Regions from separate parts of the Homo sapiens genome. Here all the other regions are linked to region 2. The links come from fine-mapping of genetic effects on gene expression. A gene starts in region 2. Each other region holds a variant in brackets. All regions are shown on one strand. Distances are from middle to middle.

Region 1 (8,182 bases), 35 kb after region 2:
TTTGTTCACAGACTCACTTGTAACTCAGGCAATTCTCCAGTTTCTTTCATTGAGTTGAGCTTCTGTATAGTTGGCAAGTTTTCCAGTTCATCTTTGCATTGGGTCTGCAGTGTGCTATCTGAAGTATCAGACGGTCAGTAAGAGAAACCAGCTGGCAGTGAGCAGAAAGATAGGTGTAAAGCAGACAGGGTCTTGAGTGGGAACTCTGTTTATGAAGGGTCAGTTCTTTAGAAATCATTTTCATGTTTAATCACTTTTGCTTTGCTGCTAAGCTTTGTGACTGATCATGAGACCTGATAACACAGATAGTGAGGACTCCACCCCATAATATATTTCATCATCATTCCAGCAACTGTCTTTAATAGGTTCTTTTAAGTATATTTGAACATTAAACAAGTTAAAATCAAATTATATATTGATATTCTTGAAGGCCCTGAGCAAAACATCGATAAGAAATTAGGTGAGTTAGGAGAGTATCATAGCCTCGTGTCTGCACTAGAAACCAGCCAGCAGGAATTTTGCATATACCTGTCAATTAATGGCAAGATTAAATATTAGTGAACCATTTCTGTGATGGACTTCATTTGATTTTAAATATTGCTCTGGAGAATGTTAAACTGAAACCGTTTCCAGATGACTATGAAGATTAGTGCTCAAAGCATCATTTACATGATGCCCTTCCCTTATAGTGATCATTTCATTCACTCTATTTCCTAAAGGCTGCCCTTGGAGCTGGCTTCTCTGACAAGACTCCTGCTCACACTGTCACCATGGCTTGTATCTCTGCCAACCAAGCCATGACCACAGGTATGTTTAAATGGAAACAGACAGTACATGTTAATTATTCTCCTTTGTCTTTTACTTGATTATAAAAATGTACTTTTTTTTTTTTTTTTTTTTTTAACACAGAACCTCACTCTGTCACTCAGGCTGGAGTGCAGTGGTACCATCATAGCTCACTGCAGGCTCAAACTCTTGAGCTCAAGAGATCATCCTGCCTTAGGATCCCAAGTAGCTGGGTCTACAGGTGCTCCACCACACCCAGCTAATTTTTAAATTTTTTGTGGAGACGGGATCTCGCCATGTTGCCCAGGCTGGTCTTAAACCTCTGGCCTCAAGTGATCCTTCTACCTCAGCCTCCAAAGTGCTGGGATTACAGGCGTGAGCCACCATGCTCATCCCAAAAAGTACTCTTAACAGAAGTAAAAGATTAGCACAGATCTCTATACTTGTGTTTTTTAAAAAGTAAGGTCAGGTTTAAAATTTGGGGGTTCTAACCGTAGTTAACCTCTTTTTTTGCTCTCCATACCTGAGGAACATTACCATTGGCGTGGTTCCTCTGTGAATAATGTGGCTGGCTGCAGCAGGGATTATCAACTGGAGGAGTGTATCTCTAGGAAGGTACTTCAGCATCTGAGGCATGAGTAAATAGTTTACAACCTGCCAGGCTTTCAACCTAGGTGCTTCAGATATGATATTTTCCCACAAAGATATGGTCTTCCTTCCTTCACCACTACCATACTTGTAAATCATTGCTTTAGATGGCACAGCTCTTTCCTTCACTTTCTCCTTACATCCTTGTCATTTTTATAAATCACTGAAAACCCCACTAACAAACTTTAGCAAAACTGTGGGATATTTTGTAGCATCAGCTCTTAGTGTGAGGAGGCAAGGAAGCCTGAAAGATTTAGTAATCATGTGCTCATCTAGTAACATCAAGGCCCAGGTGGGCACCCCACCTCATGTGTGGCGGGGAATGATGCCCGTGACTGGGGGCGTTCGCCACTCTAGGCAGCATGTGACCAACTCCTGGTTAGAGAAACAGAATACTGGCCAGTGGCCATAAGGAGAGAGGGGGCCTGCCTTACGTTTCAACAGCTGTAATTTCTCTGCTTTGCAGCAGAAGTTAACATTCTCTTTATAGGATAAAAAATCTTTATTAAAACTAAAGCTGGGAGCATATAAATATGCAAGATGTTCTGGTTTGGAATATGATTTGTTCAAGAGTTGGTCCAATGGATATTCCTAGAAGTTGACGTCCATATGGCAGGAATGAAACTTGTTTTTCTCTAACGTGTTGAATGTGTTTTTAGTCATTTAAGAAAATTACCTTAATTCTTCTGAAAAGTTGAAAACTTTAATTACAGATGTTGTACAAAGCTGATAACTGTCATTCAGCTTTTTAATCAAGAAGCTTAAATTGGAATGGTATGTTATTTTCTGTAAAAGATATTCATGAAGTATAACCTGTGCCCTGTAGGTGTTGGCTTGATTGCTTCTGGCCAGTGTGATGTGATCGTGGCAGGTGGTGTTGAGTTGATGTCCGATGTCCCTATTCGTCACTCAAGGAAAATGAGAAAACTGATGCTTGATCTCAATAAGGCCAAATCTATGGGCCAGCGACTGTCTTTAATCTCTAAATTCCGATTTAATTTCCTAGCACCTGAGGTAAGGCTTGTGTTTGCAGGGCATCCCACTGCAGAGATTTAGAATTAGGTATGGCAGTGTGGACTCTGCTATGCTGTAATAGGTGTAGATTCTGTAGTTACAGGAAAGGGTTAATTACTTGCTCAAGATGGAAAAAAAAGATAGTGGTTAGAAAACTTTAATTTGTGAGCCCTCTTTAGAGATCCTCTTTAGAGATCCTCTGCTTGTCTTGGACTTGATTGATTAATGGTAGACAAATAGATTTTAACTTTTCCAAATAACACAGAACAATCCTAGGTGTTAGCATAACACCGGTTAACAGTGTACCTGCTCCTTGGATATCTCCTTTCCCAGCTCCCTGCGGTTTCTGAGTTCTCCACCAGTGAGACCATGGGCCACTCTGCAGACCGACTGGCCGCTGCCTTTGCTGTTTCTCGGCTGGAACAGGATGAATATGCACTGCGCTCTCACAGTCTAGCCAAGAAGGCACAGGATGAAGGACTCCTTTCTGATGTGGTACCCTTCAAAGTACCAGGTGAAATGAAATGCTTCATGACACTTATTAGGGAGTTCTGAATTGCTCCTAAAACTCAAAAACATCCCGAGTGATTTTTCCATAAGTATGTTGGTTCTGTTTCCAAAGTATTCAGCCTTTATTCTTAAATATGGATGCAAATTTTGATTTATGTTGTAACAATAGGTTAACATTTTTTAATGTTTCTATAAGAGTGTCCTTTTAAGATCTGAGCACTAATCTCAGCACTTTGGGAGGCTGAGGCAGGAGGATCGCTTGAGGCCAGGAGTTCAAGACCAGCCTGGTCAACAGCGTGAGACTTCATCTCTAATTAAAAAAAAAAAAAAGAAAAACAGAGTCTCCTTTTAGATCTTGCTGATATATTTTAGTTCTTACATACATGCCTGTTTTTAAAATTCCTGAATCGTCTGACTTCTGTATAGAATAGCCAACTGTGAATGAATGTCTTAAGAAAATAGGGTGTCCTATTTTTAGTAAAGCATTTAGATGATTTCCCAATTGTCTTTTAAGACTTTAGTTTAAAATTTGATAATATGATAATTATAAAACACTTTCCTTCTAGTGAATAGGTAAGGTTTATATTTCATTTGTTTTTGTAATTTTTAAAGCATATTTCTGTGGAGAAGATATATAAGGCTTGTGGTTCCATAGAGTTAAAAAAATTCATTTTTTTAATAGGAAAAGATACAGTTACCAAAGATAATGGCATCCGTCCTTCCTCACTGGAGCAGATGGCCAAACTAAAACCTGCATTCATCAAGCCCTACGGCACAGTGACAGCTGCAAATTCTTCTTTCTTGGTAACTGTCAATGTTATTTGTATTTAGTAGTGACTTTTCTATTTCTGTACTCTCTGTAGAAAAGCCTAATATAACTTTTTGTGTGTGTTATGAATAGAGGGTTAAAAATATAGTTATTCATTTTAATGTGAAAGTGGAGTCATTAAAAAAAAAATAGAATCACGGTTTTAAGGCCCGAGAAGTCACCTAATCCAGCCACCATTCTGCCACAAAAGCTCTTCCTTTCAGGCACTTAACCAGTCAAAAACTTCTATTGCTTATGGTGGGCCCTGGAAATGAAAAGAATAGACAATTGCAATATAGTGAGATGCTGTGATGGCTGTAAGGCTTAGGTCGAACCCCTGACCCAGATGGGGGGACAGTCAGAGAGTCTTCTTGGAAGAGGTAACACTTGAGCAGCAAATCTTGAAGGAAGAGTAAAAGCCAACTCAGGAAGGATTTTAAAAGGCATTTC[A/G]GGCCGGGTGCGGTGGCTCACGCCTGTAATCCCAGCACTTTGGGAGGTTGAGGCAGGCAGATCACCTGAGGTCAGGAGTTCGAGACCAGCCTGAGCAACATGGAGAAACCCCGTCTCTACTAAAAATACAAAATTAGCCAGATGTGGTGGCACATGCCTGTTAATCCCGGCTACTCGGGAGGCTGAGGCAAGAGAATTGCTTGAACCCTGGAGGCGTGGAGGTTGCGGTGAGCCAAGATCGCACCATTGCACTCCAGCCTGCACAAGAGCGAAACTCCCATCTCAAAAAAAAAAAAAAAAAAAAAAAAAAAAGGCATTTTGGACAAAGGGAATAGCAAATGCAAAATCAAGGAAGTATGAGAGCAAGGGGTTCTTTGGGGAAAAGTTAGGTTGGAGCATAAGGTATGAACTGGGAAGTCGCAGAAGACAAGGAAAAGCAGGCAGAAAGAGTAACAGGATACCTCTTCCAGCCCTGATTGTTAGAAAACTGCTTTACACTGACCCCAATATTATTTTCCTGTAAGCATCATGGAACAAATCTACCACTGTTTGTTTTGTGTTTTTTTTTTAACTTATCAACATGTAGCTTCATATCCTTCCATGCTTTTCTGACTCCTCAATTAAACATCTTTATTGATTCTGCTGCTGCTTGTAAGATGTGATTTCTCTTCTCTTACCACCTTGGGTATAGTCTTCTGGATATAGGCCATCTGGTCAGAGTTTCTCTTACAATGTAACTCTCCTACCTGGCCATAAAGTCTTGAAAACATACGCAGATGTTTGACATATTTGCCCATGGTAAATGACTAATTAATGCCTGCTCTTGATAGGCTAGGGGAGTGGAATCTGGAGTAGTTCCAACAGGATGGAACACCACCCTGTTAAGCCCAGGTGGTGAAGAGCTGGTTAGGTTGGTCATTTGCAAAACCGAATTGGATGATAGAGCCATGTGGCATGGACTACACTTGCCAGATCTGAATCCTTTTGATTATTTCCAGGGTATGCTAAAGGTCCAGGTTTATTTAGTGAGAATCAGAGACACAAATCATCAGAGGTGACACATCACAATACATGGATTTTGGGGACTGCATTAGTGCCCCACATTCATTGCAATTTTGCACAATGGCACATTGAACCTGTTATTAATGTAATGTCTGTAAACCATTTATTCCATATGGTCACCTATGTCTCCAGACTTTATGGACACCCTATTGGTGGCTACACAGTCTCTTCAGGGTTGCCGAGTTATAAAAATACGACAGAATGTGGTAGAACTTATTTTGATTTTACAAATTATGAAGAATAGTTTCCTTTTCTTTGGAATTCTGAAGTTTTTGGGGGAGCTTTTCTTCTTTGAAGTATGGTAAAGGACGTTTTTTCAGTAGTACTTCTTTGTCCTCCAGCTTCTCGGTTGTCATTTGGGAAGAAATGTATGGGGTGTATCCAAAGAGGGAAGATTGTGGTTCTAATGTCCTCAGCTGGTTCTCCCATTGGTTTGCTCGTTACAGAATATATAAGTAGAATAAAATGACCTGTAAGCCACGGGCAGAAAGCAGCTGAGAGCCCAGAAAATGTAAAAATAAATAAATAAGAGATATGTTTATTTTGGTTCATATTTTGTGCCACAAGCTAAAAACTTTGGCTTAAATAAGTGTTTAGTGTTTATTATGAGCAGTTCTTTCTTTTTTTTTTTTTTTTTTTTTGAGACAGAGTCTGGCTTTGTCACCCAGGCTGGAATGCAGTGGCACGATCTCAGCTCACTGCAACCTCCGCCTCCCAGGTTCAAGCAATTCTCCTGCCTCAGCCTCAGCCTCCCAAGTAGCTGGGACTACAGGTGTGTGCCACCACACCTGGCTAAGTTTTTCTATTTTTAGTAGAGATGGGGTTTCACCGCGTTAGCCAGGATGGTCTCAATCACCTGCCTCATGATCTGCCCGCCTCAGCCTCCCAAAGTGCTGGGATTACAGGCATACAGGCATGAGCCACCACGCTTGGCCATGAGCATTTATTTCTAAAGTTACCTCTTCTGTTGATTCATTTTGATTATTATGATACTTTTGAACAGCCTTCTCTACCCTCATCCTCCAAAAATGAGTCAGCGTGTGTATGTTTGAATTATGATTTAATGATGGATACAGTGAAGTAAGTGTTGTTATATAGAATCACTGTATAAGTCTAATGAGTTAATAGATTCAGGTACAGATATATAAGATGGCTGGAGAAAGACCTCCAGACAGGCTGAAGAATTTTAACATTGTGCTGGTTAACATTTCAGACTGATGGTGCATCTGCAATGTTAATCATGGCGGAGGAAAAGGCTCTGGCCATGGGTTATAAGCCGAAGGCATATTTGAGGTAAAGTAAATGTTCAAACAAATCATCTCTGATTTCTTTATTTTATTACCAAAGCTCACCTCTCTATTTTTTTACCTAGGGATTTTATGTATGTGTCTCAGGATCCAAAAGATCAACTATTACTTGGGTAGGTAGCAGTTTGTATCCTTGGACTATAATCACAAGTATTTGATTGCCTATGTTTTATTATACTGGTTAATAAATGATTAACACTGGTTTATTATTTATTTGTTTATTACACTGGTTTGAGAGTATATTAAGCCCTGAGTTCATAATTGGTTTATGTGGTGGTTTTTTTAAAAAAAATAATAGTAATCTGGCCGGGCACGGTGGCTCACGCCTGTAATCCCAGCACTTTGGGAGGCCGAGGTGGGCAGACCACGAGGTCAGGAGATTGAGACCATCCTGGCTAACACGGTGAAGCCCTATCTCTACTAAAAATACAAAAAATTAGCCAGGCGTGGTGGCGGGCGCCTGTAGTCCCAGCTACTCGGGAGGTTTTGGCAAGAGAATGGCATGAACCCGAGAGGCAGAGCTTGCAGTGAGCCAAGATCACGCCACTGCACTCCAGCCTGGGCGACAGAGCGAGACTCCATCTCAAAAAAATAAATAAATAAATAAAATAGTAGTAATCCTTTCCATTGGTATATCATGTTACAGTTTTGGATTATTTTCCATTTTTTTCCTATAAGTTTTACATATATATATGGACACACACAACTTATATTCTTTTTCATTAAGATAGCATATGCATTTTTTCATATGGCTACACACCCTGCTACACAATCTTCCTAATATAGCCTTTTATAAAAGCCTCCCCATGTTTAGACTCTGTTCCGTTCCCTCACAAGGCTGTAGCCTCTAGCCTCCACTGTGACGTTCACATCAGTCAAGCCCTTTCCCTTGCCTTGCTCTTTGAACTCTGTTCTTCCAGTTCTTCATGTTATTAGCTTGTCCTTATCCCTCACTGTTTATTTATTATCAATTTCTCTGACTCTGCAACATAAGAGTAGAGGGCATGTCTGTACAGTTTCACTATTTTATCTTTAACATTTCATTAATCAGTACAGAAAAATCAAAGAATGAGTGAAAAGACATTAGAGTACCTATGTAAAACTCAGTTTGGGGAATATGAAGGAGCTCTTAGTTTAAAAATTAAAGTTTTAAGATATTACTTATTTTTTCTTTGCAGACCAACATATGCTACTCCAAAAGTTCTAGAAAAGGCAGGATTGACCATGAATGATATTGATGCTTTTGAATTTCATGAAGCTTTCTCGGTAAGTAATTTGAAAGACACATATGAAGGGACTATAGTCATAAAAAATGTCATCCATATTTGTGGGAGAGAGCAAGGCATGGTTTATGATGTGAGTAGAGCAGGAGTGGACCTGCATATTTTAAGTACTGATTCACACTGCTGGGAGGGGCCCGAGGGGAGGGAAGCAAGGGCCACACATACAGTGTTGGAGAACATACCAAATTGCTTCTTTAGGAAATTGCCATTGAAAACTGATACAAAGATTTGTTCAACTTTACTTTTTTTTTTTTTTTTGGAGACAGAGTCTTGCTCTGTTGCCCCAGCTGGAGTGTAGTGGCACGATCTCGGCT
Region 2 (8,182 bases):
ATTTCAAATTTGAAAACATTACTTTGGTTGTAATAATCAACAGCTTTTCTCAAGATTCAACACTGGGAGAAGCGACGAGATTAAGGAAGTGAGAATCAAATTTAAAAATACACAATCTATGGCCGGGCGCGGTGGCTCACGCCTGTAATCCCAGCACTTTGGGAGGCTGAGGTGGCTGGATCACCTGAGGTCGGGAGTTAGAGACCAGCCTGGCTGACATGGCGAAACCCCGTCTCTACTAAAAATACAACAACAACAACAAAAAAAAAAAAACAAAAAAAAAGTTAGCTGGGCGTGGTGGCAGGAGCCTGTAATCCCAGCTACTCTGGAGGCTGAGACAGGAGAATCACTTGAACCCGGGAGGCGGAGGTTGCAGTGAGCCAAGAGCGCACCATTGCACTCCAGGCTGGGTGACACAGTGAGACTCCGTCTCCAAAAAAAAAACCGAAAAAACAAACAAACAAAAAAACCATCTATTAAGGTATTTGCCTCTAAATTCATCTCCTGTGAAATTATTTTACTACTAATACCTATTTACTACTAAATACCTAATTAGGAATTTAGATTTAGGATAGGAGTGGGAATTAGACAACATACTCTGGTCAAGAAGTGATTTTCATTTGATATTCACATTCAGAATTATAGCACTTGTAGAGAAGGAATGCTTTAAAATTTCAAGAATTACAAGTCTCCTTCAAGATAATTTTTTTTTTTTTGAGATATGGTCTCATTCTGTCCTCCAGGTGTGATCTTGGCTCACTGCAACCTCCACCTCCTGGGTTCAAGCGATTCTCCCACCTCAGCCTCCCGAGTAGTTGGGATTACAGACGTGTGCCACCACACCTGGCCAATTCTGGTATTTTTTGGTAGAGATGGGGTTTCACCATGTGGGCCAGGCTAGACCTCAAGTGATCTGCCCGCCTTGGCCTCCCAATATACTGGGATTATAGGCATGAGCCACCGTGCCTGGCCCCTTTCAAGAGAATTTTATCATCCACCAGCAAAGGTCATAATCTCATTAAATGTTTGGCAAAGCCTTGCACAGACTTTTACTGTGAAGGATCTATTGAGTCTAAATAGTAATATAAGGGTGCAGGTCATTTTAAATTCACTTTCCAGACTTTTTTTCAAAATTTATAAATTGCTATTAAGGGATCAGTAACTACAACGAATGATACTTTCTTACTGGTGAAAACACAATGCAAAGTATATATTTATGTGTCTATATATTTCTATACAGAAAACAGAAAAATTAGGTTGGTAGCTTTTTATTACACACATAAGATGTACAAATTACTTTTAAAAACTCTCAGATATATACAATCGTATTTCTTCCAGGCTGGAGTTAATAATATTTACTGAGTGCTTACTCCATGAAAAACTGCTTGATATCTAAAATAACTCCTTTTCATCACACAAGGTGGTATTATTCCCCATTTTACAAATGAGAAAACAAACACAGAAATTAATTGCCCAAGGTCATCAGAGGGTAAAAGGCAGAGCCAGGTCCAAACCCAGAAGTCAGACTCCAAACAATGTTTTTTTTGTTTGTTTGTTTGTTTTTGAGACGGAGGACCAGGCTGGAGTGCTGTGGCGCGATCTCGGCTCACTGCAAGCTCCGCCTCCCGGGCTCACGCCATTCTCCTGCCTCAGCCTCCCGAGTAGCTGGGACTACAGGCGCCCACCAACACGTCCGGCTAATTTCTTGTATTTTTAGTAGAGACGGGGTTTCACCGTGTTAGCCAGGATGGTCTCGATCTCCCGACCTCGTGATCCGCCCGCCTGGGCCTCCCAAAGTGCTGGGATTACAGGCGTGAGCCACCGCACCCGGCCCAAACAATGTTTATTAATTGCTCTGTCATGCTACTTCTCATGCAAAGGAAATCCATCATCTCAATCATTCATTTTGCAGATGAGGAAAATAAAGCCCATTTAGTTTAAGGCATTTGTCCAAAGTAACACAGCTAGTGACTAGAACCACGTGCCCTGGCTACCACTTCCGAGTGACATCAGCTGCCGATCCATAAGAAATACCTTCAAACCAATGCAGGGGTAAGATAAAAATTACACGTTACTTTTCAAAAGTGTTGTGAAAATAGGGGAAAAAAACCACCAAACCTGTAAGGAAACATAACCGAAGGCTAACCGTAGGTAAGCATATGAGTAGTAAGACAATGGGTGATTCGTTTTTTTTTCATCTCTTTCCTCAATCCTTACAGCATTTCAATGTTCTATAATGTGCTTATGTTATAATTGGCAAATACATGCTACAGTTTTGTGGAGACTAAAAACAGCTGTTGAAAAAAGGGAGCAGAAAAATATTCAATCATTAAAAAAATCCCCTTACAGTAAGGGATTTCAGCTACTTGTCTAAAAAAAGCATACTACTTCAGCGGTTCCGGAAGAGGGAAGAGAGGTAATTCATATTACAAATTAAATTAAAAGTTAAAATTTCTAGTTAAGTAACTTATTAAGCACAACATGCAATAAAACGTTGTCCACTTTTGACTTTACAGATTTGGGATGGAAAGAAAATGCAACGTTTCCTACAACCACCCACTTTAACCCTTTCACTGCCAGTTTGAAAAGGAAAAACACTAGCTAATACAGGCTGACTGGGAATCATCAGATTACAAATCGTTCTCAGAACGATCTAACATTTTATTGCTTAAGGTAGAGGTATTAGCGTATTTTTAAAGTGTGTCTTCCAGTAAGTTGCAGAACTTCCCGCTGAAATTCAAAATACTATACGTTCACACTGACATTACTGAAACTGCAAGAGTTGAGCTCCCTACTTGATTGGGGTAGTAAGCACAAAAATGGTTTTGAGGGAACGGAGCAGGGAGGGGCAGTGATCTGCAAGGCTGATTAATCCCATACAAGACAGCGCTTGTTGCGGGGTAAGGTGCTGTTTTTAAGACAGCTCTTGTTGCGGGGCAAGGTGCTGTGGAGCCACAAAGATGCGACAGAATGGATCCCGATTCTCCTGGAACTCCGGATCAAGAAAATATGAGGGGCGTGAGCCCAGAAGTGCGACGCAAGAGACCCGCGGAAAGGTGACAGAACGAGTGGCACCAGACTCAGAAAGTTGGGGAGTTAGGAAGCCTGAAATCGCCGCAGGAGTCGTGAGAGGGGAAGTGACAGTCTCTTCAGAAGGTCACGGGAAACCGGGTCCCAGGGCAGTATCCCCACAGAGGGCTGCGTCTCCGGGCTGGGGCAGGCGGCAGCGAAAGGGAGACGCGGCTCCGGGGCCACCCCAGTCCCGGCAGGAGTTCTGCCCGGAGGTCTGGGATGCCCTCGGCCAGGCCTCACCTCGGGAGCGGAGGATCCTGAAGGCAGAAAAGCGGCTGAGGATGCCAATCGCCCGGCAGGCCACCATCTTGAGCTGAAGAGGACAGCAGTGGAGAGCGCCTCTAACGGGTGCGGCCGAGCGGAGGACTTTTCTCCCGTAGCCTGGCAGCCAGGCGCCTGGAGCACTGCCTGACTAAAACCCAGATGCCGAGTGGCCGCCGGCCCCTTAGCCCTGCCCCTCGCTCCTGGCTAACATGGCCGAAAGGTCGTATTCTCCGGGGGAGGACGGGGGCCCGGAGAGGAGGGGGTGGAGTGCCTGGTTTTCCAGTCAGGCGGCCGGAGGGCAGCCCTCAAGAACGGCCCTGACCGCCCGCGGGGTGAGGGGCCCTTTCTGGGCAGGACCCGCCCCTTGGTCCCGCAGAGCCTTGGTACTTGGACCTGAACCTTGCTCCGAGAGGGAGTCCTCGCGGACGTCAGCCAAGGTGAGACGGCGAGCCCTCAGCTCTCCGCCCGGGCTTTCCCAAAGGCGAGATTCCACTTCCTTCCCCGCAACTGTCGCCGGTGCCCCCGGCCCCCTCCCCTCCCTGGGAAAGTGGGAGTTGAGGGAGCGGAAGGAAACTCCTCGGACAAGGTCGGCAGTGCTAGCTGCAGTTAGGACAGTGACTTGGACTAGCGTTCCAGCTGAAGTTCGGGACAGTAGTGTCACCTGCGCCCTAATTTATCATCACAAGTTAACGAAGTCTGGGGGTGTGGGGGTGTGTGTGTGTGTGTGGGTGTGTGTGGGCGTGTGTGGGCGTCGGCCTTAATGTAACCCTGGTCTGCGTAGAAGTGTGTGTTGTTTCGCCTGCTTCCCCTGTACCCAGGTCGGCGGCTATAGAGATTGTGGACGGCGCCATGGGTTTGCCCGATTTCTGCTGTAAAGAATAAGACTAGGTCAGGTGACCTTTCGGGGCTTGAGTGTGGGAGGAACGGAGACAATCCTCCATCCGGCTCCGTTATCCAGATAATCCTGCGCTCTCGGGGGTTTTCCGATCTGGATGATTATCTATCTGGTCGTTCACACCTCAGCTCACTTAAGCGGTGAAGAAACTGCCTACGAATCAGAGAGAGTGATTTTACCCATGGCCATATGTAGTAGAAATAAGACTGGAGCCTAAGTCTACTAACTCCTAGTGAAGAGTTCTTCATTGCATGGTAGCTGTTTTTGTGCTGGAATGATGGGCTGGAGTCCTGGAATAAAGTGATTGATTTCAAAAGGAAGTCACATTGAGAGCCTGCTGTGCTCTGGTCACCTTCATACCTTTTTGTTTAGTCCTCACATTCCCCAAATTATTATCATTTGCATTTTCTAGATGAAGTTTGGGAAGCTCAGAATATATACATTTTCTAGTCTGTGACAGACCTAGCATTCAGACATAAGTCTGAGTCTCACTACTCGCCAGACTGACAGCTCTGCAGGACAGGAAACAAGGGGCATCGAAGTTAAGACTGAAATGAGTATAGAGACAGAGTAGAGAGGTTTCTGTTTAAAGCTCAAGTTGCATAGTGAGTGCTCATCATGTGAGCACTTTAAGCAGAAACTGGATGACCTGACCACTTCTGAATAAATTGCAAAAAGGATTCTTGATAATCTTACAAGGTTTTTACAGTTCAGAGCCTGCCTCCTGCCCATGTAATGCTTTCTTCAACACCTAACTGCGTGTAACACTTATTATTTAGGTCAGAAGTGGTAAATTTTGTTGTTGTTGTTAAAGGTCCAGACAGTAAATAGTTCAGGATTTGCAGGATCACTTTGGTCTCTGTTATATATTGTTTCTTTTGTTTTGTTTTGTTTACAACTTTTTTTTTTTTTTGAGACAGTTTTGCTCTTGTTGTCCAGGCTGGAGTGCAGTGGCGCGATCTTGGCTCACTGCAGCCTCCTCCCGGGTTCAAGTGATTCTCCTGCCTCAGGCTCCCGAGTAGCTGGGATTACAAGCGCACACCACCACGCCGGGCTAATTTTTTGTATTTTTAGTAGAGACGGGGTTTCACCATGTTAGCCAGCCTGGTCCCGAACTCCTGACCTTAGGTGATTCGCCCACCTCTGCCCCCCAAAGTGCTGGGATTACAAGTGTGAGCCACCACGCCCGACCTTACAACTCTTTAAAAATGTGAAAAACTATTTTTAGCTAGAGGCCCGTGTGTTGTAGTTTGCCAATCCCTGATTTAGATCACTCATTTGGCTCCATTTTTTTGCTCCCTGTGCTTTCTCTACAAAACTAAGCTCCATCAGGGCAGAAATGTTATAATGTTTCTTTGATCCCTAAGCACTTTAGTCCAATGGTTTATATAGAGGGAAACAGTACATTTGTATCACCATCTCTACTGGTAATAGCAAACACAGGTATACCCCTAACTGTGTATCAAGCACTGTTTTAAGTGGTGTGTGCACGTGGGTGTGCGTGCGTGTGTGTGTGTGCGCGTGCGCGTCCTATGTGGTTAAGTAACTGGCTTAAAGTCATACAGCTAGGGTGAATCAGGATTTGGACATAGTCTGGCTTTAGTTCTCTTAACCATTACGTTGTGTTTCAAAGTTGTAATAATGAGCTGTTAGAGCCACCCCATCTTGCTTTTGTTTTCATTACTTGCCTAGACTCTTCTTCCTTTCCCTTGCTCCCAGGTGCCTGCAGCTTCGTGTATCTTTCCATAGTTCACACCTTACTCAGGCTTACCCTAACCAACTCGATCCTACCCTACCCTACCCTGGAGTTTCCATGCTTTGAATATTTTTACCAAAATTTCTGTTTTCTGAAGTTTAGCAAATGACAGAAAGGTCAGCTCTGCTATAGGATAATTTGCTTAGTCCCTCTTACTTTTGAAATCTCTATTTTTTATTAACTATTGAAGGAATACATATTCCATGTAATTTTTTATTCAGAAACTACAGAAAAGTCTAAAGAAAATCTGTAATTCCACCACCCGGAGATAACTACTTTTAACATTTTGATGTGTATTTTTCTGGACTTTTTAAAATGCATTTGTATATTTGTATATATTTATATAAGATATTGATGTACAGTCGGCCCTTGGTATCTGTGAGTTCTACATCCTCAGATTCAACCAATGTCTGAGTGAAAATGTAGTTAGGCCTACAGTGGTTTCATTTGTCCTGAACATGTACAGACTTTTTTTCTCATCATTATTCCCTAAACGATACAGCATAACGACTATTTACATAGATTTACATTGCATTCGGTATTGTAAGTAGTCTAGAGATGATTTAGAGTATGCATGAGGATGTGTGTAGGTTCTTTGCAAATAAATACTATGCCATTTTATGTAAAGGACTTGAGCATCCTTGAGGTTTGGTATCTGAGGGGGGTTCTGGAACCAATCCCCCTTGGATACTGAGGAACAACAGTATATATAGATTTTAAATAAAACTAGAATTATGCATAAGTAAAATGCTTATTTTAAAAAAATTAAAGAGAACAGAAGAATATTAAATAAAAGCCTTTCTTTATCCTTCCATGTCTAGACTCATAGCTTCAGGGACTTTCTTTTCTCTTTCTCTCTTTCTGTCACAAAATGGTTGTTGTAGTAGGGTTTACTTACCCATTTCCCTATTTTCCAGTTATTCTAATCTATTATTCTAATTTCTAATACACATTGTTCTGTAGCTTGCTTTTTCATTTAATATATATTATGGACATTTTTCCATGTCAGTATATATACATGTACATCATTTTGTTTCATTTTCTTTTCCAAACTGCCAAACAGTATTCCATGGTGTGTTTATACTATAACTTACTTAACTGTTTCCTACTGATGTGCATTTAGATTAGTTACGGTTTTCCACAAATATAAACAGTGCTATAGTGAACACCTTGAGTATTTCTTTTTTTTTTTTTGAGACGGAGTCTCGTTCTGTCTCCTAGGCTGGAGTTCAGTGGCGTAAGCCACCACCCCTGGCCCACCTTGAGTATTTTACGCTAGAGACCTATATATGCTATACATACATTTTGAATATTTCTATAGGTTAGAGACCAATAAAAGGCATTATTGGACTCAAAAATTCACATTTTAAATTCTGATCTATAACTACAAAATTGTCATCCCAAAAGGCCTTAGCATTTTACATGTCTTCTAGTGTATGGAAGTGCCTATTTAGTTAGATGCATTCTTACTAGAATTATATATTAACCATATTTTCAATGTTTGCCAATCTGAAAACCACAAAATGATACCTTGCTTTGATTTAAAAAACAACAACAACAACAACAAAAAGGCTGGGCGCAGTGGCTCATGCCTGTAATCCCAGCACTTTGGGAGGCAGAGGCGGGCGGATCACCTGAGGTCAGGAGTTCAAGACCAGCCTGGCCAACATGGTGAAACCCCATCTCTGCTAAAAATACAAAAATTAGACAGGCGTGGTGGCACGTGCCTGGAGTCTCAGCTACTCGGGAGGCTGAGGCAGGAGAATCGCTTGAACCCAGGAGGTGGAGGTTGCAGTGAGCCGAGATCGCGCCATTGCACTCCAACCTGGGGGACAAGAGTGAGACTTTGTCTCAAAAAAAAAAAGAAAATCACAACTTTTTGTTAGTGAGGTTGAACATTATACATTTTGTTTATTTGGCATTTTAATTTCTTCTGTGAATGGCTTGTTTTCTCATTCTTGCTTTTGGTCATGTATCAGGAAGGAGTCTTTCAGTTGCAAATAACAGAAAATTCAAATCAAATTGGCTTCTTAAAGGGGATTTATTAGTCCGGGCGTGGTGGCTCACGCCTGTAATCCTAGCACTTTGGGAGGCTCAGGAGTTCGAGACCAGCCTGATCAACACGGTGAAATCCTGTCTCTACTAAAATAAAAAAAATTAGCCTGGTATGGTGGTGTGCGCCTGTAGTCCCAGTT
Region 3 (8,182 bases), 250 kb after region 2:
CCGCATCCTCTACCACTACTGGTCAGCCTGCCTATGGCCAGTGATGCACCAGCCTGCCATGCACTCCAGAGCGTGTGATGAAGCTCCTTCCAGGCTCTGTGCAGAGTTACTCACCTAATTATGAGTGAGAACCCACCAGACTGGGTGCGCAGTTGCTCACTGCATTTGTGTACAGACTGTGCGCGCCACTTCTCCGCAGGCCAGATGGCTGTGTGTACTAACAGTCGCCAGACTGTGGTCCTTGCCAGCCTTTTCCCAGGAACTGCCACAGTGGGAAGGGCCCCGTGCACCACGCTCCCTGAGCCATGCACACCTCGACTGACTGGCCATGCGCAGGTACTCACCTGGCTGCGAGTACACGGTTCCCACGTCCATTTTGAAGGAGCCCACCAGGGTGCCACTGCGCAGCAGGTTCTTGGAGTGAATCACCTTTCAGGCAGAACCACAGCCCACCCGTCAGGCCCAGCAAGGGTGAGGCTTTCCATGGGGCAGTGGTGGGACCCGAGCTTTGTGGTGAAGTGGGAGGGCGTTGGCAGAGTGGGGTGGCTCACTGAGGCTCAGCATCAGCTCCTCCTGCCCACGCCAGTTTCTTGCTGGCCACTGTTTACGGGCGAATGCACTATTCAGAGGCATCCAATGAAAGGGGTGGGTGGGGGCCAGAATCCAGCCTGTCCCTACTTGCCCAGCCGTGTGTCCAGGCACGGCGCTGCCTCTTTATCATGGGTCTAGACAGAGGGGGCCCCTCTCAAGTCTGCACAAAGGTGCAGTTTGAGGGAGTGGCCCTGCCGGCCAGGGGCTGCTCCCCACTCACCGAAATCTTGATGATCTTGTCAAACATGACATCCGGAGAGACATGGAAGTCGAAGACGAAGTACTGGAGGGGGAAGGATCCAGGCCTGCTGTCACTGAGGGCAGCAGCAACAGCCCAGGCAGTGTTGGGCCCCTCCCTCCTCGCAGGGCCTGTCTGCACCCCAGACATTTGCCCTGAGCCCCAAAGTTCAGAGGAGCAGCAGAGGCAACTCATCTGATCCTGATTGACCCTGGTGGTGGGTGGTAGGAAGCAGAGCCCCATCCCCTAGGTGGGGCTGGTGCTGGCTAGTGTGGGGTGGGAAAGGAACTTGGAACAGTAGGTGGGACAGCCCATGCCCTTGTACTGTGCTCAGAAGAGGCACAGGGCCAGGGAGCAAGCAGACCTGGGTTCTAGTCCCCGCTCTGCACCTTCTTAACTGTGTGGCCTTGAGCAACACATTCTCTGAACCTCAGTTTTTTGAGCTGTGAAATGGGGATAATGACACCCACCTCAGAGTCTTGTTATGAGGCTCTGATGAGACAGTGTAACATATTTTACCAAATCTAAAGTGGCTACTGGCTGTAAGATATACTACGGTTTAATAAGCCACATGGACATTGCCATGAAGCCACAAGGCTGCCTAGGAGACACATCCCAAATTCAGAGAGGTGAAACTGTAAAATAACGCAAGCCTCAGAGCAGATGAACCATGGTGTGCCAAGCACTTAGTTGGCAGTCGATGTGAAATGCCATGGGTGTGCACTGTCCTTTGGTGCTGTGGGCTGCCATGCACATTTGCAGTCCCCATCTCTTCCCCTGGCCTGGGTGTGCAGGTGCTGAGGATGAGGGTGTGGGGCAGTGAGTAGAGGGGCTGCTGCTTTGGTGAACTGTGGTGGGGGAGAAGGGAGAAATATTTCCAATGTGCTTGGGGTAAATGTCCGAAGAGAACGTGCTCCTGGCTGCTGGGGGCTGGCCCTTGAGCACTGAGGGTAAAGCCAGCTTCAGAGCCAGCCCCACCTGGCTGTTACTGCTAGATCACTCACTTTCTTGCCTGAGCCTCAGTTTACCTATTATCCTATGAATGTGGAGATATGATCCAGGGCTGTCGTGCTGAACTGCTCCAGGGGTGCCATTCACTTGGGGGGCTTCAAGGTGTGGTTGTGAAGTTGCAATGAGACACCCTGGTCAAGTCTTTAACACAGGTGTGCACCACGGTAAGCACATAGCAAGCAGCGACAGCTGTGCATGACACTAACAGGCCCAGGGTGTGCTGGCCAGAGTTCTGAAGCTCTGGGGAGGCGGGTGGGGATATGGATTTGGGAATCGTCAGCACAAGATGGTAACTGACACCTTGGAGATGGAGGAGATACCTGGGGAGAGCATGGGAGGGGAAGCAGGCCCAGGTCAGGGCTCCAAGAAGACACAGCCTTTCAGCCAAGAAGTTAGGCCGGGGAGATGGAGCTGGAGAGACAGGGGAAGCAGGAGAGTGGCGTGAGGGGCCCCCAAGAGGAGCAGCAGGCAGCGGGATGAAAGAAACTGGGTGATCAAGGGAGAGGAGGATGACATGGACATTATACTCAGGAACAGCAATGTCCTTGGTGACCTTGAGGAGAGCAGTGTCAATGACATCTGGAGGCAGAAACCCTGCAGAGATTGAGGGGTGACTGGGGGGAGGAAGTGAGGACAACCCAAGTGGTCTGACTGTGGAGGGGTGGAGGGAAAAAGGAGGTCACTGGAGAAGTGTGTGGGAATGAGGAAAGGCCCAGAGAGAGGTGACAGACTCCTAGTTCCTGTCCTTGAGCACACATGGGTCTTCATGGTTGTACTTAGCATATGCTGGAGTAGAACACCTTATAGGCAAGGAAGAAGGGGCTGGAAGAAAAACAAAGACAGAGTTGGGCTGTGCAATGCCAGGTTCTTTGAGCTGTAGAAAGAGAAGGATCCAAGGCAAAGGGGAGAGGTGGATTTTCAGCAGGAGGAAGGATGGTGGCGCTCCCAAGATGCCCAGGGCGGGGCCAGATGCACACACAGGACACACAGGAAAGGAGCCTTAGTCTGGTTTGTGAATGGCCAGCTTGTTCCGGAAGGGCAAAGGTTTTGAGCTTCCCTGCACACAGGCAGGCTCAGGGCCAGGCAGGGTGATCAGGCCAGGTGCCCGCAGATGTGCCAGCCCCAGGGGAGCGAGCTAGCTGAGCTAGAGCCAGAATCCCGAACTCTCTGAGCTGTCTGCAATCAAATTCCTGTTATTTCCTGAGCATATTTTCCTTTTGTAATAGCTTAGATACCTAAGTCATGTTGATTGTTCCCACCTCCCTCTGTTGTTTTAATGGAGCCAAAGGAAGGTTCCTACCAGCTCAGATAATTAGTCAGAAATAATACATTCCCACGACGAGGAGGATGTCCTTCATTGAAAAGGAATGTGGCATAGAAAGAGAAGAAAAGGGAAACAAAGCTTTGGGGCTGGAAAGGCTGATTTGGGGCTGGAAGGAATCATAGTAAGATAGTTTAGAATGGTGGTCTCAACTGAGGGCGATTTCAGGGGACATTTGGCATGTCTGGAAACTTGGTAGCTGTAACTAAGGGGAGTTGCTATTGGCATCTACTGGGTAGAGGCCAGGGATGCTGCTCACATCCTACACAGCACAGGACGATCCCACCACAATTATCCAGTCCAAGATACCATAGTGCTGAGTTTGAGAAACCCTAGTTTAGAGGAAACAGAAACAAAATCAGAGCTATTTGGGTTTGTGAAAAAGAACAAAAATGTGATCAGAAACACATTTAAGATTGTCCAAAGATGAGCAGAATGAATAGTCAGTCTTAGAGGAAGTAAATAGGGAATTTAGAAAGATTCTAGGCTGAAACAAGGAGGGGACCTGCGCAGGGCGGAAACTGTGCCTCCTTCATCTCGGCAGCCTCCATGTTGCCCCACGTGCCACTGTCTGGTGTGCGGCAGATGCTCAGTGGATGTTTGTGTCTTCCTTTGGGTGAGTGTTACTGAACCCCTCCGAGTACATGCCTGGCTCTGAACAAATAGCGAGGCAGGAGACTGGGAGCCTCCAGTCCACCAGCAGGACAGAGACACGGAGGACCAACCTCAACTCCAGGACATTAACACTGCAGAGAAAGGGGAGTGCTGACCTCTGACCCAGACAGAGCAGGCAAGGCTGCTCAGTAGCAAGAACATTTGAGCTGGGCCCTGCCGGGTGAGTAGGAGTTTTCTGGGGGAGCCACAGAGTAGGGAGAGCAGCTCTGTGCCCTTGGGAAAGAGGAAGTAATTTGAATGAAAGCCAAGGTGTGTGGGCCTGGTGGAGGGAGATCCCTTAAGTTAGCAGAAGTGGCTTCACTGCTATCAAGTAACCACCGGGGCCACAGGGACCTGTCTCCATGCCTGTCTTGGGGACATAGATGCTTATCTAGGCGGAGACTTGTCCAGTCAGGATGTGTCCTAACGTAAGGCCAGAGATGTCAATCCTGAATGTCCTTGGGGCTGGAGGGGTCCTGAGCAGGTTGTCCAGCTCGGGGGGCCTGTGGGAAAGCAGCTGGGAGAGCAGAGTCAATTTGTGGTCACAAAGGAGAGTTCGGCCAGGCCTGGGCTGAAGGGCAGAGGTGGGCCTGGGTTTTCTTCCTGCAGGTGCACAGTCTGAGGACTCTCAGAGCTGCCTGAGAAATGCCCTCCCCCAAGCTACAGGGGGCACCTCAGCCCTCACCCACCTCAGGGTACGGGACTCAGCTGCCTTACTTGGGACAGCCTGGCACCCCTCACTGCCTGGAGCCACCAGGAGAAACAGACTGGGGAACCCTCCAGGAAAGGGATGGCAGGGCCCAGGCCTGTGGCTTCTGGGTTAGTCTGATGTGTGATCAGGCATCTGGGAAAGGCCTGGGCATCCTGGTGAGAAAACATTTTCAATGGTCCATTTTCAAGGCAGGATAAGTCTAAGTACTGGCATCCAACCTGCGAATGCAACAAACCACACGGCTCATGCACCTAGAAGGACACAATAAGCGAACAGAATGTAGAGGAGGGGTCAGCCCATGAAAGGGAAGAAAGTTTTGTTATTGGGAAATCGAA[A/T]CTTAAGTGGGGAAATCGAAGGGGAGCGGGGTATAACCTTGTAAGGGGGAAAATGAAACTTAGGCGACGTCAGGGAAGATTGTAACCCCATAGTGCTCAACCAATGGGGAAGTGGGGGAGGGACTTGCACACTAGGAGATAAATTCCTGTTGTGACTGCCCCAGGGGTGCCTGCCTACCAGACACTCCATCTTGCAAGACCGTTATTAAAAGTCTCACTTTCGCTGTTCTTCATGCCTCTAAGTCATTCTTTGGGTTTTGATGAGTGAGTGTATTTCTCTATTTCTCACATCCCTCCCCAGAGCTGATTATGATGGGGTCCCATCTGGAGCCTGGGAACCAAGGTGCCATATTTGTGATGGTGGCCAGAGCCCTGGGCTGGAAGCTGGGTGGGCAGCCTGGCCCCTGCTCTATCAGCAACACTCTCTGAGATTGTGGGCAAGGCCCTTCCATATGGAGGCCTCAGTATCCTCCTCTGTAAGATGGGGAGATTAAAGTAGAAGGTCTCTGAGGTCCCTCACCCTTGATGTGGCCTCAAATGGCTGGAAAGAATAGGAGTGGGTACCAAATGTTTTCTCTTTCACACCCTAAAATCAAGGCCAGTGCTCTGGAGAGAAGCCCGCAGAAGTTTAGGCAACCATGAAGGAGCCGAGCCAAGAGGGCAGAACCCCACTAGCACGCCAAGGGCGATGCTGGCACTGTGAGGTTGGACAAGGTCTGCCTTCAGAAGTCTCACTGTCCCCTTGTGTAAAAGGGAATTGATAGTGACAACTTTGGATGGTCCAGTTCAGAAGCATTTAGGAGCATGCCTGGCTGGTAGAAAGTGCTTACTAATGGTGCCAGTGCCACCATGGGTTGGAATGAGGCAGCCCTGTCCTTGGGCTCTGGCCTGGGAAACAGTGGGAACCAGGCCTCTTGGGGAGTGGGGTGGGGGGGGGTTCTTTCACAGGCACTGCTGGGGTCTGCCCAGGAGCACCCGGGTGGTGTACGCTTCAAAGACCAGTGTCGGCCTGTGCTCTAGACTGGGGGGTTCAGAGGATTCAGAAGATGTGGCTCTGTTTGTCAGTGTCCTGGGGGTTGTAACAGGGTGGATCACCCCTGCTGGTAGCCCTGTGTGCTCCTTGACTTCCAGCCACTCCTATTTCTCCTGGGGAGGGCTGGGGCCACCCTCCTGCCATATTTACAGAGGCTCCTTTCCCCACAGGGCCACTGACCTCGTTGTAATAGGGGCAGTTAGTGGACTCCTTCATGGATGTGTACTTCTTGTCGTCACCCACCTCCACGCACACCACAGGGTCCATGTTCAAGCCCACCAGCTGCCGGGCCTCGATCACCGTGATGCTGACCTGCAGGCAGGAGAAGGGGGAGCCAGAAGGAAAGCTGCCTGAGCCTAGGAGCCTGGTCCCGCAGGGGTCCAGGGGCTGGGGCAGCAGGGTCAGAGGGAGGGCCCGGGAGCCAGCACTGGCCTCCTGGGCTCCATTCTGACCACTGCCTCTCATCTGCTGGGTGATCCTGGCTCTTTCTCCTTCTATGCCTCAAGTGTCTTCATTTATAGAGGAGTATGAGTTGGCTAACCTCTAAGTCAGTGTTCACTAGACTTAACTTGCTGGGCCGAAGGGAGGGAGAGGCATTAAAAACACTGATGCCCAGGCCACCTCCAGACCAATCCAATCCAATCCTGGACATGCAGCTCAGGCATCTGTATTTTTATTTTTTTGATGGAGTCTTACTCTGTTGCCCAGGCTGGAGTGCAGTGGCATGATCTCGGCTCACTGCAACCCTCTGCCTCCTGGGTTCAAGTGATTCTTCTGCCTCAGCCTCCTGAGTAGCTGGGATTACAGGCATGCACTACCACACCGGGCTAATTTTTGTCTTTTTTATACAGATGGGGTTTTGCCATGTTGGCCAGGCTGTTCTCAAACTCCCGGCCTCAAGTGATCTGTCTGCCTCGGCCTCCCAAAGTGCTGGAATTACAGGCATGAGCCACCGTGCCCAGGCTGGAATCTGTATTTTTAAAGCTCCTAGGTGATGCCAAGTGCCCTGCGTTCTTCCCCAGCGTCGATGGCTCTGCTTCAGAAAGAGCTGCCAAACCCATGTCACAGGTTTCATGCACTCAGGAATAAAGCTTTCAAAGTCTTCATTAACTTGCATTTAATTTCCTGCTCCAGGAATTCTCATGTAAGCCTGCAGGCCTCTGATACGTCTTTGCATTTCTGGAATTTGGCTCCCCCCCCTTTCCACATTGTTTGCTGAATTTCTTTGTTTGTATGGCCAGTGCGGCTTTGGTGCCTGCCTGAGCCGCCTTTTTCAGCCTACTGATTGTATGTTGTGTGCACTCTGCTGTGTCCTTTATGTGGCGTCCAGCTCTGCAATCTTACTTATATCCTGGGAAGCCCTATTTCAGTTGTTCATTCATGCAACAAATGTTTCCTGGAAACCTGCTGGAGCCAGGCACAGGTGGGATTGCAACAAATTCTTCCTTGTGGAGCTTACCACAAATGATTAATGGCTTTTTTTTTTTTTTCACACTGAGTCTCTCTCTGTCACTCAGGCCTGGAGTGCAGTGGCATGATCTCAGCTCACTGCAGCCTCCACCTCCTGGGTTCAAGCGATTCTTCTGCCCCAGCCTCCCAAGTAGCTGGGATTACAAGCATATGCCACCCCGCCCGGCTAATTTTTGTATTTTTTTTTTAGTAGAGATTGGGTTTTACCATGTTGGCCAGGCTGGTCTTGAACTCCTGACCTCAGGTGATCTGCCTGCCTTGGCCTCCCAAAGTGCTGGGAATGCAGGCACGAGCCACTGTGACCAGCCAATTATTGGCTTTTTAAGCTAAAAAGATATAAGGACAGAGAGAGAGACAGAGAGAGAGAGAGCCAGAGCACCAGTAATTTTTGACATCACTACTACTTTTCCCGAACCCTCATTTTAAGCCATCAGGTCTCATTTGGATTTGGAGGTGTCAGTTCCTGTCAGGGTGGCCATGTTAAGATAGACAGAGGCATGTACTGGGGGTTGCTGAACTTGGGATTGAACCCCAGACCTGACATGTTGCCAGGTGTGAGGGCAAATGACCACATAGCCTTGTGTTTTTCAGTTACAAGCAGAGACACCAGCTACCTGTAAGGTTGTATGCAGGTTAAATGAGATCATGTGTGTCAAAATGCATCCTAAACAGCAGAAAGCTCTACAAAATGTGAGTGACCCCAACAGAATCTCCCTTCAGCTAAGCGGTTGATCTCTCAAGTAGGGAGCTTGTGCATGATACTTAGAATGATTGATTCACTTGCCTCTCTCAAACGTGTGTTTTAACAAGAAAAGCC

Direction of the effects. Positions count from the first base shown, and alleles are read on the strand shown. Sizes are in standard deviations (SD) of each study's normalised expression. Not every link is listed here.
As copies of T replace A in region 3, the expression in monocytes after R848 of the gene that starts at base 3,722 in region 2 goes down (moderate effect, 0.73 SD a copy in Quach 2016).

Evidence for each region.
Region 1: its variant is fine-mapped to the expression of HADHB in blood mononuclear cells (TOPMed, PIP 0.96).
Region 3: its variant is fine-mapped to the expression of HADHB in monocytes after R848 (Quach 2016, PIP 0.95).

Annotation. Positions count from the first base shown.
Region 1 is chr2:26,276,354-26,284,535 of GRCh38, forward strand. HADHB (hydroxyacyl-CoA dehydrogenase trifunctional multienzyme complex subunit beta) reads left to right here. Exons shown (of 16, transcript NM_000183.3): 7 at 720-807; 8 at 2,261-2,448; 9 at 2,782-2,962; 10 at 3,641-3,762; 11 at 6,492-6,571; 12 at 6,651-6,698; 13 at 7,764-7,851. Among named protein-coding and RNA genes, the nearest start is that of HADHB, 36 kb to the left of the region's middle. The variant A/G (reference allele first, on the strand shown) is at 4,217.
Region 2 is chr2:26,241,218-26,249,399 of GRCh38, forward strand. HADHB (hydroxyacyl-CoA dehydrogenase trifunctional multienzyme complex subunit beta) reads left to right here and starts at 3,722. Exons shown (of 16, transcript NM_000183.3): 1 at 3,722-3,773. It overlaps HADHA (hydroxyacyl-CoA dehydrogenase trifunctional multienzyme complex subunit alpha), which reads right to left and starts at 3,415. Exons shown (of 20, transcript NM_000182.5): 1 at 3,313-3,415. The coding sequence starts at 3,379. RefSeq lists enhancers at 1,231-1,771, 3,257-3,937, 3,792-3,891, 4,750-5,477.
Region 3 is chr2:26,488,867-26,497,048 of GRCh38, forward strand. OTOF (otoferlin) reads right to left here. Exons shown (of 47, transcript NM_194248.3): 9 at 6,076-6,207; 10 at 812-874; 11 at 345-429. Among named protein-coding and RNA genes, the nearest start is that of OTOF, 66 kb to the right of the region's middle. RefSeq lists a silencer at 940-1,182 and an enhancer at 4,780-4,929. The variant A/T (reference allele first, on the strand shown) is at 4,863.